3 separate regions of the Homo sapiens genome follow, and regions 1 and 2 are each linked to region 3. The links come from fine-mapping of genetic effects on gene expression. A gene starts in region 3. Each other region holds a variant in brackets. All regions are shown on one strand. Distances are from middle to middle.

Region 1 (2,848 bases), 510 kb after region 3:
AGCTGGGACTACAGGCGTGTGCCACCATGTCTGGCTAATTTTGGTATTTTTTGTAGAGACAGGGTTTCACCATGTTGGCCAGGCTGGTCTCGAACTCCTGGGCTCAAGCAGTCCTCCCGCCTTGGCCTCCCAAAGTGCTGGGATTACAGGTGTGAGCCACCACGACTGGCCGCGTATCACTATCTGACATATGCTTACATGTTCCCTTATTTATTGTCTTTCTCCTCTTATCTGAATGTAAGAGCAGAGACTTGGTCAGTTTTGTGTGTTGCCATGTCCCAGTACTTGAGAACAGTGTCTGGCCCAGAGTAGGTGCTCATTTGTGGAATAATAGAATGAATGAAAGCATGTATGTGTGCTAATCTGTACTTTACCCTGGTTAGTTAGGGTGTATTTGTATCCAGTTAGGGTATAGTTGTCAACATCAATCAGGATTGAAAATTGGGATTAAAATAAGATTTAAAAGCAGCATATAGGCAAATGCTGATGTTTCCATTTGGAAACTCAATGCTACTGGAATATTCAGGTACACTTCATCTCTTCCCCTTTCTCTTTTGTTGTCTCTTATGCTGAGGGCAAGCATCTGGCCTTATTTATCCTTATTCTCTAGTACTTAGTCCAGCACATTCCATAAAGTTGGCTCTTAATAAACATTTGCTGCCAACCCAGGAGTGGACCTCAGCATTTCTTCACTGTTTTTGTAACTTCAATACTTCACAGAATGCTTGGCAAATAATAGATGCTCAATAAATATTCGTTCAAGGTAGGAATGAATTATTTGTCTACCTAGGGTAGACATTATTCCAGGTTATCTGTTATGTAACAAATTAACCTAAAACATAGTTGTCTAAAACAATAAATATTATCTCACAGAGTTTCTGTGGCTCAGGAATTCAGGAGTAGCTTAACTGGGTGGTCTGACTCAGGGTCTCTCATGAGGTTGTAGTCAGTTGTTGACTGGGGCTGCCATCATCTGAAAGCATATCTGGGGCTGGAGGATCCTCTTCCAAGTTGCTTCACTACATGACTATTGGCAGAGGGCTTCAGTTGCTGGCCTCGTGGACTTCTCCATAGGGCTGCTTAAGTGTTCTCACAAAATGGCTGCTGTCATCCCTAAGGGAAGAAATCCCAGAGAGAAAGCAAGGAGGAACCCCCAATAATACCTTTTATCACCTTGTCTCAAAAGTCATGCACCATCACTTCTGCAAGTTGCTAAAGGCAGCTCACACTCCAGGGGATGAGAATTAGGCCCCAT[CT/C]TTTTTTTTTCCTCTGTGAATTAGGCTGGAGTGCAGGGGCAACATCTCAACTCATTACAGCCTAGATCTCCCGGGCTCAAGTGATCCCCCCATGTCAGCCTCCATAGTAGTTGGCACTACAGGCACATGCCAACAAGCCCAGATAATTTAAAGAATTTTTTAGAGACAGGGTCTCACTACATTGCCCAGGCTAGTTTCGAATTCCTATGCTCAAGCAATCCTCCCACCTTGGCCTCCCAAAATGCTGAGATTACAGGCATGAGCCACCATGCTTGGCCATGAAGCATTTTTAAAACATTGAGATATTTCTACTAAAACTAATAATTTTTTTTTTCTTGAGACAGGGTCTCTTTCTGTTGCCCAGACGGGAGTGCAGTGGCGCGATCTCGGATCACCACAACCTCTGCCTCCCAGGCTCACGCGATTCTCTTGCCTCAGCCTCCTCAGGAGCTGGGATTACAGGCACGCGCCACTACTGCCCGGCTAATTTTTGTATTTTTAGTAAAGATGGGGTTTCACCATGTTGACCAGGCTGGTCTTGAACTCCGGACCTAAGATGATCCACCTGCCTCGGCCTCCCAAATTGCTGAGATTACAGGCATGAGCCACCGTGCTTGGCTAACTAATAACTATTTTTATGTGTTTTTTTGGGAATAGGTGATACATACAGATGTATGTATCACCTATACCTGTATGTATGAGTTCAAAAGCTAAAAGGTTTTATACAGAGAAATGATAGGATATGAGAGGTTTTATTTAACAGGATCTCTCTGGTCTCTGTGTTGAGAACAGGTCAGAAAGTGATAAAGATGGAAGCAAGTTAGGAAGCTATTGCAATAATTTAAGGAGTGCTTGGAGCAGTAGAAGTGGAGGTAATGAGAAATGATCAAAATCTGGATATATTTTGAAGGTTGAGCCAAAAAGATTTGCTGATGGTCAGGTGTGGGGACATGGATAGTAGGAGAGGAACCAAGTAAAACTCTAAGGGTTTTGACCTGAACACCTAGAAGGATGTACACATGCCATTACCTCAGATAGGGAGAATTCAGAGCAAGTTGTTTTTGTTGTTCTTGGAGGAGAGGGTTGTTAAGGAGAGGATGGGTATCAGGAGCTCAGTTTGGAACATATTAAGTTTGAGATCTCCATTTAGACGTCCAATGGAAATGTCAAGTTTGTGATTAGATACATGAATCTGGAGTTTAGGGGAGAGGTTGGGGCTAGGGATAGAAGTTTGAGTCATCAGCTACACATGAAGTACCAGCAAAAGATGCTGAGGAATGACCAGAGAGATAGGAGGAAAACCAGGAGAGTATGGTGTTCTGGAAGCCAAGTGAAGGAAGCGTTTCAAGAAGGGAATTGGTCTGAGCATGAAGGAGCTGAGCATGAAGGTACCAGATCCCTGAGAGAAAGTATGTACTAATGGAAATAGTAAAAATGAGGGGCCTAGAAAAAAATCTCTCTCTCTCTTTCTACTATTATACTTGGATCAGCCTTGACTACACAAATGTTTTGAGGTTTTGAATTATTATCTGAAACAAAGCAGTGCTGCTTTGGGATTGAGTTTGTCTCAGCATTTCACTCCTAAGAACTGT
Region 2 (2,500 bases), 33 kb before region 3:
CTTTCCCAAATGTTACTGTGCTTGTGTCTTGGCTCCATTTTTTTCTAGCTTATAGCTTTCCTGACACTTGCTTTGACGTCATTTTTTTCCTGTCAGTATGCCTGCCTCTTCTATCATATTGGTGTGTAAAGCAAATATCTGAACTTCTTTTACAAGCAATTTTTTTTCTTTTTTGGAGACAGAGTCTCCCTCTGTTGCCCAGGCTGAAGTGCAGTGGCGCGATCTCGGCTCACTGCAACCTCTGCCTCCCCAGTTCAAACAATTCTCCTGCCTCAACCTCCCAGTAGCTAGGACTACAGGCTCAGGCCACCACACCTGGCTACTGTTTTTTTGTATTTTTAGTAGAGACGGGGTTTCACCATGTTGCCCAGGGTGGTTTTAAACTCCTGAGCTCAGGCAGTCCTCCCACCTTGGCCTCCCAAAGTGCTAGGATTACAGGCATGAGCCGCCACGCCCAGCCTTTTACAAACAATTATAACAAGAATAAATAGGGCTCATATAATGTTCTAAAGGAATACTCCGAAGATTAAAATTGACAGACTAAATTAGCTGGCTGTGGTGGTATGCACCTGTAGTACCACCTATTCAGGAGGCTGAGGCAGGAGAATCACTTGAACCTGCGAGGTGGAGGTTGCAGTGAGCCCAGATCGTGCCACTGCACTCCAACCTGGGTGACAGAGTGACACTCTGTCTAAAAAATAAATAAAATTGATAAACTTATTTTGGCTGTGTTGTCTTTTTGCTTATCCTTGGTTCTTGTATAAATTCTAGGTAGGAGAGGGTAGCCAAGTGGTTGTATTTGGAAAGAAGGAGAGGTTGTTCTACTAAGCCTGTGCTAGAAGAACACTTCCCTTACCTTCCTCCCCTTTTCTCCTTGTAAACATTTTATGACTTTCAGTCTAAGAGCCTCTATGTATTGAGAGTGCTTGCTATTGTTCTTGTAAGTTCTTAGCCTATACAAGTTTAGCCTTCAAAGACTCATTACTGACCTTCATTTTAAAATATCAACTTCATTTTAGATGCCACAGTGGAGCTATCCTTGGACAGCACACAAAATAATCAGAAGAAGGTGCTAGCCAAAACACTCATTTCTCTTCCTCCTCAGGAAGCCACAAATTCTTCGAAGCCCCAGCCAACCTATGAGGAGGTGAGGATCTGTGCTCTTGGTCTTATCGCTTTTAGATATT[G/T]AGGACTGTGTACGGCCAGTCTGAAGTGTAGTTGAGTATGAACCTTGAGAAAATATTTGTTACTCTTGAAGGAGATCTTTATGGTTAATGGACAGCCAGAATCCAATACAGGAGTCTTTCTTGAGCAGAGTATCTATTGCCCAGAGAGCACGAAGGCTTTCAGTGGTTACTAAAGATACTTAGTGTGCGAAGCTTCCACATTCAGGAGTATAGTTTCTCCTCACTCCCTTCCTAGCCTGCAAGAGGCAAGTCTTTCTAAATCTGGCAGTTATTCATTGTCATCAAAATAAGATTTTAAGGGGATACATGTAACAAAGACTTGTAAGCTGGCTCCTAATTTAAAATTTTGAGAGTTGGTACATTGGGATTGTTGGGAATGGACAAAAGCTGAACACTGAAGGATACATCTTGATTTTATTAGATTGGTATAAGGTTATTACAGGGTAAAATTGATAGCTTTTTTTTTCATATCAACTCTCATGATTTGTCTTTTCTTGAAAAAGCTAGAGGAAGAAGAACAGGAGGATCAATTTGATTTGACAGTCGGTATAACTGATCCTGAGAAGATAGGTAAGTGGTTCTTAGGACTCCTTGTGATGTTAGGATGTGGCTGTGGAAAGCATAGGTAGCTAATTTCAGGATGGCTACCCCCAGAGTTGAACTAGCCAATGTGAAGTACTTCATTAGTATCTTTTCTGTAAAAGTAGACCCCTTGCTATGTTTCTAAGGCCAGAGACTGCTGTTACTCAATGCGTTAGTCAGTCTTTTCTTGGCTTCAGGAAGAAAAATCAGAGTCATCAAATACTACTAGAATCCCTTTTTATTTTTATTCTTTTGGTTTTTTGTTTTTTAGAGACAAGGCCTCATTTTGTCACCCAGAATGGAGCACAGTAGCACTATCATAGCTCACTATCATCTCCAGCTCCTGGACTCAAGCAGTCCTCCCGCCTGAGCCACCCCAGCCGCCCAAGTAGCTGGGACTGCAGGCACGTGCTACCATGCCGACTAATTCTTTTTTTAAGAGATGGGGTCTTGCTATGTTGCCCAGGCTGGTCTCAAACTCCTGGCCTCAAGTGATCCTCCTGCCTTAGCCTCTTAAAGCACCGAGATTACAGGCATGAGCCACCGCACCCAGCTAGAGTCTCTTTTTAAAAACCCCAACAGGCCAGCCATGGTGGCTCACACCTGTAATCCCAGCACTTTGGGAGGCCAAGGCAGGCAGATCACTTGAGGTCAGGAGTTCAGCCAGGCCAACATGGTGAAACCCCATCTATACTAAAAATGCAAAAATTGACCAGGCATGGTGGTGTGCG
Region 3 (2,848 bases):
TTGGTGAGACCTGTTTGCCCCATTTTGGGGTCGTCATCTCAGCCCTTCTCTGGGGGCAGGGCTGGGGATGGAGGTTTTTTGCTCCAGCTCAGAGGCGTCTCTGCAGAAGCAGGGGAGGGGTGAGTCCCCTCAACCCCAGCCCCGAAGACAGGCACTCTGCTTCCTCCTGCCCACCCCAAGACCTCCCACTACGTATGAGCTTTGGAAGGCAGGGCCTCGCCTCTCTGCATGTCACGGGGCCTTTGTGGGGGAAGTCAGTGGAGTAGAGGACCTGCCATGGTGCTGCTGATAGCAGCTCTCCGACAGCTGAAGGGTGCAGGGCTGAGAGGTGGGAGCAGAGGTCCTTTCCAGCACATGGCCTGAGAGAGTTCTGGATCAAAATCCTGCCACATATCCAGGAAGAACCTGCCCGGAGGGGTGGACAAGAGCAACCCGGTGCCACCCCCCAAAGTCTCTCTTCCCATCCACTGCCCTGTGCCCACTTATCCTAGTCATCCAGGAGAAGCCCACAGTCAAGCTGCTGCTCAATGCTTCTGTTAAGGGCCTAACATGAATCATCTCACTTTTTTTTTTTTTTAAGACAGAGTCTTGCTGTTGCCCAGTCTGGAGTGCAATGGTTTGATCTCGGCTCACTGCAACCTCCGCCTCTCAGGTTCAAGTGATTCTCCCGCCTCAGCCTCCTGAGTAGCTGGGATTACAGGCATGTGCCACCACACCTGGTTGATTTTTGTATTTTTAGTAGGTACGGGGTTTCACCATGTTGGTCAGGCTGGTCTCGAACTCCTGACCTCAGGTGATCCGCCTACCTCGGCCTCCCAAAGTGCTGGGATTACAGGCGTGAGCCACCGCGCCCGGCCAAATCATCTCACTTTATACACTTGCCTGAAGGAGCCACGTTATCCCTATTTTGCAGATGAGCAAAGGTCTACGGAGCTCCTGAAATCCAGGCAGTCTGACGTCCAAATCGGAGTCTAGGTCCCTAAACTGCCTCTTCCCCACAAACAGCCTGGAGCCCCTTAGGGTTGGAAGATATGAGTGAATGGATGGATGAAAACAATGAATGAATGGGGGGGCCTGTGGATGCTGGGGAAAGGGGCATCAAAGCTGGACTGGGTCCAAGCCTTGCTCAGGTGTGGCCTCAGCCGGGGAATCCAGATCACAATTTCAGGGACCAGGCTGAAAGGAGGGAAAGGCTCGGGAAGGGACTGAGGAACCCAAGACAGGTCCCTGGTTGGCCCCAGGACCGGCGCTGAGGCCCGGGCCCCGCCTCCGTCCGCGCCTGGAGCCACAGGCCGTCCTTGGTAGGCGCTTAACTCAGGTTGGGTGACATTTTCGCTCGCCAGTTCCTGGCATCAGTGAGTGCTCCGTCAATGTTTGACAAACGGTTGACTCCACTGCCCCGCGCTGTGGGCGCACTAGACTTCGGGGGCGGCGTCCAGGTCCCGCCTAATCTTCTAGGCTCAGGACCCGCGGCGCAAGGGAACGCCCGGGGCGGGGTCGCCTGGGGGCGGGGCCTGGGGTGGGGCCTGCGGACCGAGGGGGCGGAGCCGGCCGCCCCGGGGTCCTCAGTCCGCTCCGGGAGAGTTAGGGCTCCGAGCCGAGCGCGCGGAGCAGCTGGGGCCGGGGCGCGGATGCTGGAAGTTCACATCCCGTCGGTGGGGCCCGAGGCCGAGGGGCCCAGGCAGAGCCCGGAGAAAAGCCACATGGTGAGCGCGGCCCCTGGATGGGGAGGGGCGCCGGGACCCGCAGGATTTCCCCGCGCTGCGCTCAGTGGGGACCCGGGGCCCGGGCCTGGGTGAACGAGCGCTGCGGGCTGGACCGTCGGGGGAAACCTTGTCGAGGGTTTGGGGGCCGCTTGGATTTGCCAGCCTCGCGGACCATGGTTCGAGCTCTTGAGGGACCCCAGGGCTCCGAGGGGCAGGTCCGCCAGCCGGTTCTCCCAGGTGTGCGGGAGCGGAGAGTCCCCGGGCAGCCGCGGCGCCGCAAGGCCGCTTTGTGCCTTTGAGAGCGGGAGGGTGGGCACGTCGCCAGGCGCAGGTGCTGCGGCGTCCTCCCGCGGGGCCTCACGCGCAGACCCGCTGCCCGCCCGCGCCGCCAGGTGTTCCGAGTGGAGGTGCTGTGCAGCGGGCGCAGACACACGGTGCCAAGGCGCTACAGCGAGTTCCACGCGCTGCACAAGCGGGTGAGGCGGCGCCGACCTCCCACCGGCCCCGGCCCAGCCTCTGTCCAGCCCCCGCCCAGGCCCTGTGAGGCGGGCGGGCGAGCCCCAGCCTCCGCCACCCCCATTACTGCCTCAGTCCCTGCGCAGCCGGTCAGCCCCCGGGCCTCTGTGGGTGGGTTGGGGCCTTCCTCGCCCTCGGCCGGTCCACCACTCACCAGGGTCTGTCCCAGTAGAGCCCGAAGGCGGGGGCGCGGGAGGGCTTCTGGCTGGGGCGAAGAGGGCTTGAGGGCTCAGTCGGGATGCTGTGATCGCACGCGGTAAACCTCCAGTAGATCAAGAAGCTGTACAAAGTGCCCGACTTCCCCTCGAAACGCCTGCCCAACTGGAGGACCAGAGGGTTGGAACAGCGCCGGCAGGGCTTGGAGGCTTACATCCAGGTATGCGAGAGCACAGTTGGTTGCCCCCCGGCCTTCTGTGCCAGGGGTGTGGCCCAGACAGAGAGGTGTGGGGGCATGGCAGGGAGGGAACCCACAACTTGGGGATGTTATTCACCACCTCAAGCATCAATTTTCTGAGTCTAATATAGGTCCAAACACCCCCCTCTGGCTTGTTGAAAGGACTGAAAGAGGTAACGGACACAGGTAGTCCCAGCTCCATGAAACCCAGGTCCTGTCCCCTCCATGGTGA

Which allele goes with the higher level. Positions count from the first base shown, and alleles are read on the strand shown. Sizes are in standard deviations (SD) of each study's normalised expression. Not every link is listed here.
With allele G in place of T in region 2, the expression in lung of the gene that starts at base 1,587 in region 3 is lower (small effect, 0.37 SD a copy in GTEx).

Evidence for each region. PIP is the estimated chance that this variant, and not a neighbour inherited with it, causes the effect. A credible set is the group of variants that fine-mapping cannot tell apart.
Region 1: its variant is the best candidate, but not a certain one, in a credible set for the expression of SNX22 in whole blood (TOPMed, PIP 0.58).
Region 2: its variant is the best candidate, but not a certain one, in a credible set for the expression of SNX22 in lung (GTEx, PIP 0.64).

What each region holds. Positions count from the first base shown.
Region 1 is chr15:64,661,091-64,663,938 of GRCh38, forward strand. All of the region lies in intron 3 of ZNF609 (zinc finger protein 609), which reads left to right. Among named protein-coding and RNA genes, the nearest start is that of OAZ2, 41 kb to the right of the region's middle. The variant CT/C (reference allele first, on the strand shown) is at 1,256.
Region 2 is chr15:64,117,098-64,119,597 of GRCh38, forward strand. SNX1 (sorting nexin 1) reads left to right here. Exons shown (of 15, transcript NM_003099.5): 3 at 1,020-1,147; 4 at 1,691-1,757. Among named protein-coding and RNA genes, the nearest start is that of SNX1, 22 kb to the left of the region's middle. The variant G/T (reference allele first, on the strand shown) is at 1,188.
Region 3 is chr15:64,150,145-64,152,992 of GRCh38, forward strand. SNX22 (sorting nexin 22) reads left to right here and starts at 1,587. Exons shown (of 7, transcript NM_024798.3): 1 at 1,587-1,706; 2 at 2,099-2,182; 3 at 2,494-2,598. The coding sequence starts at 1,632. RefSeq lists an enhancer at 246-355 and silencers at 1,273-1,712, 1,913-2,292.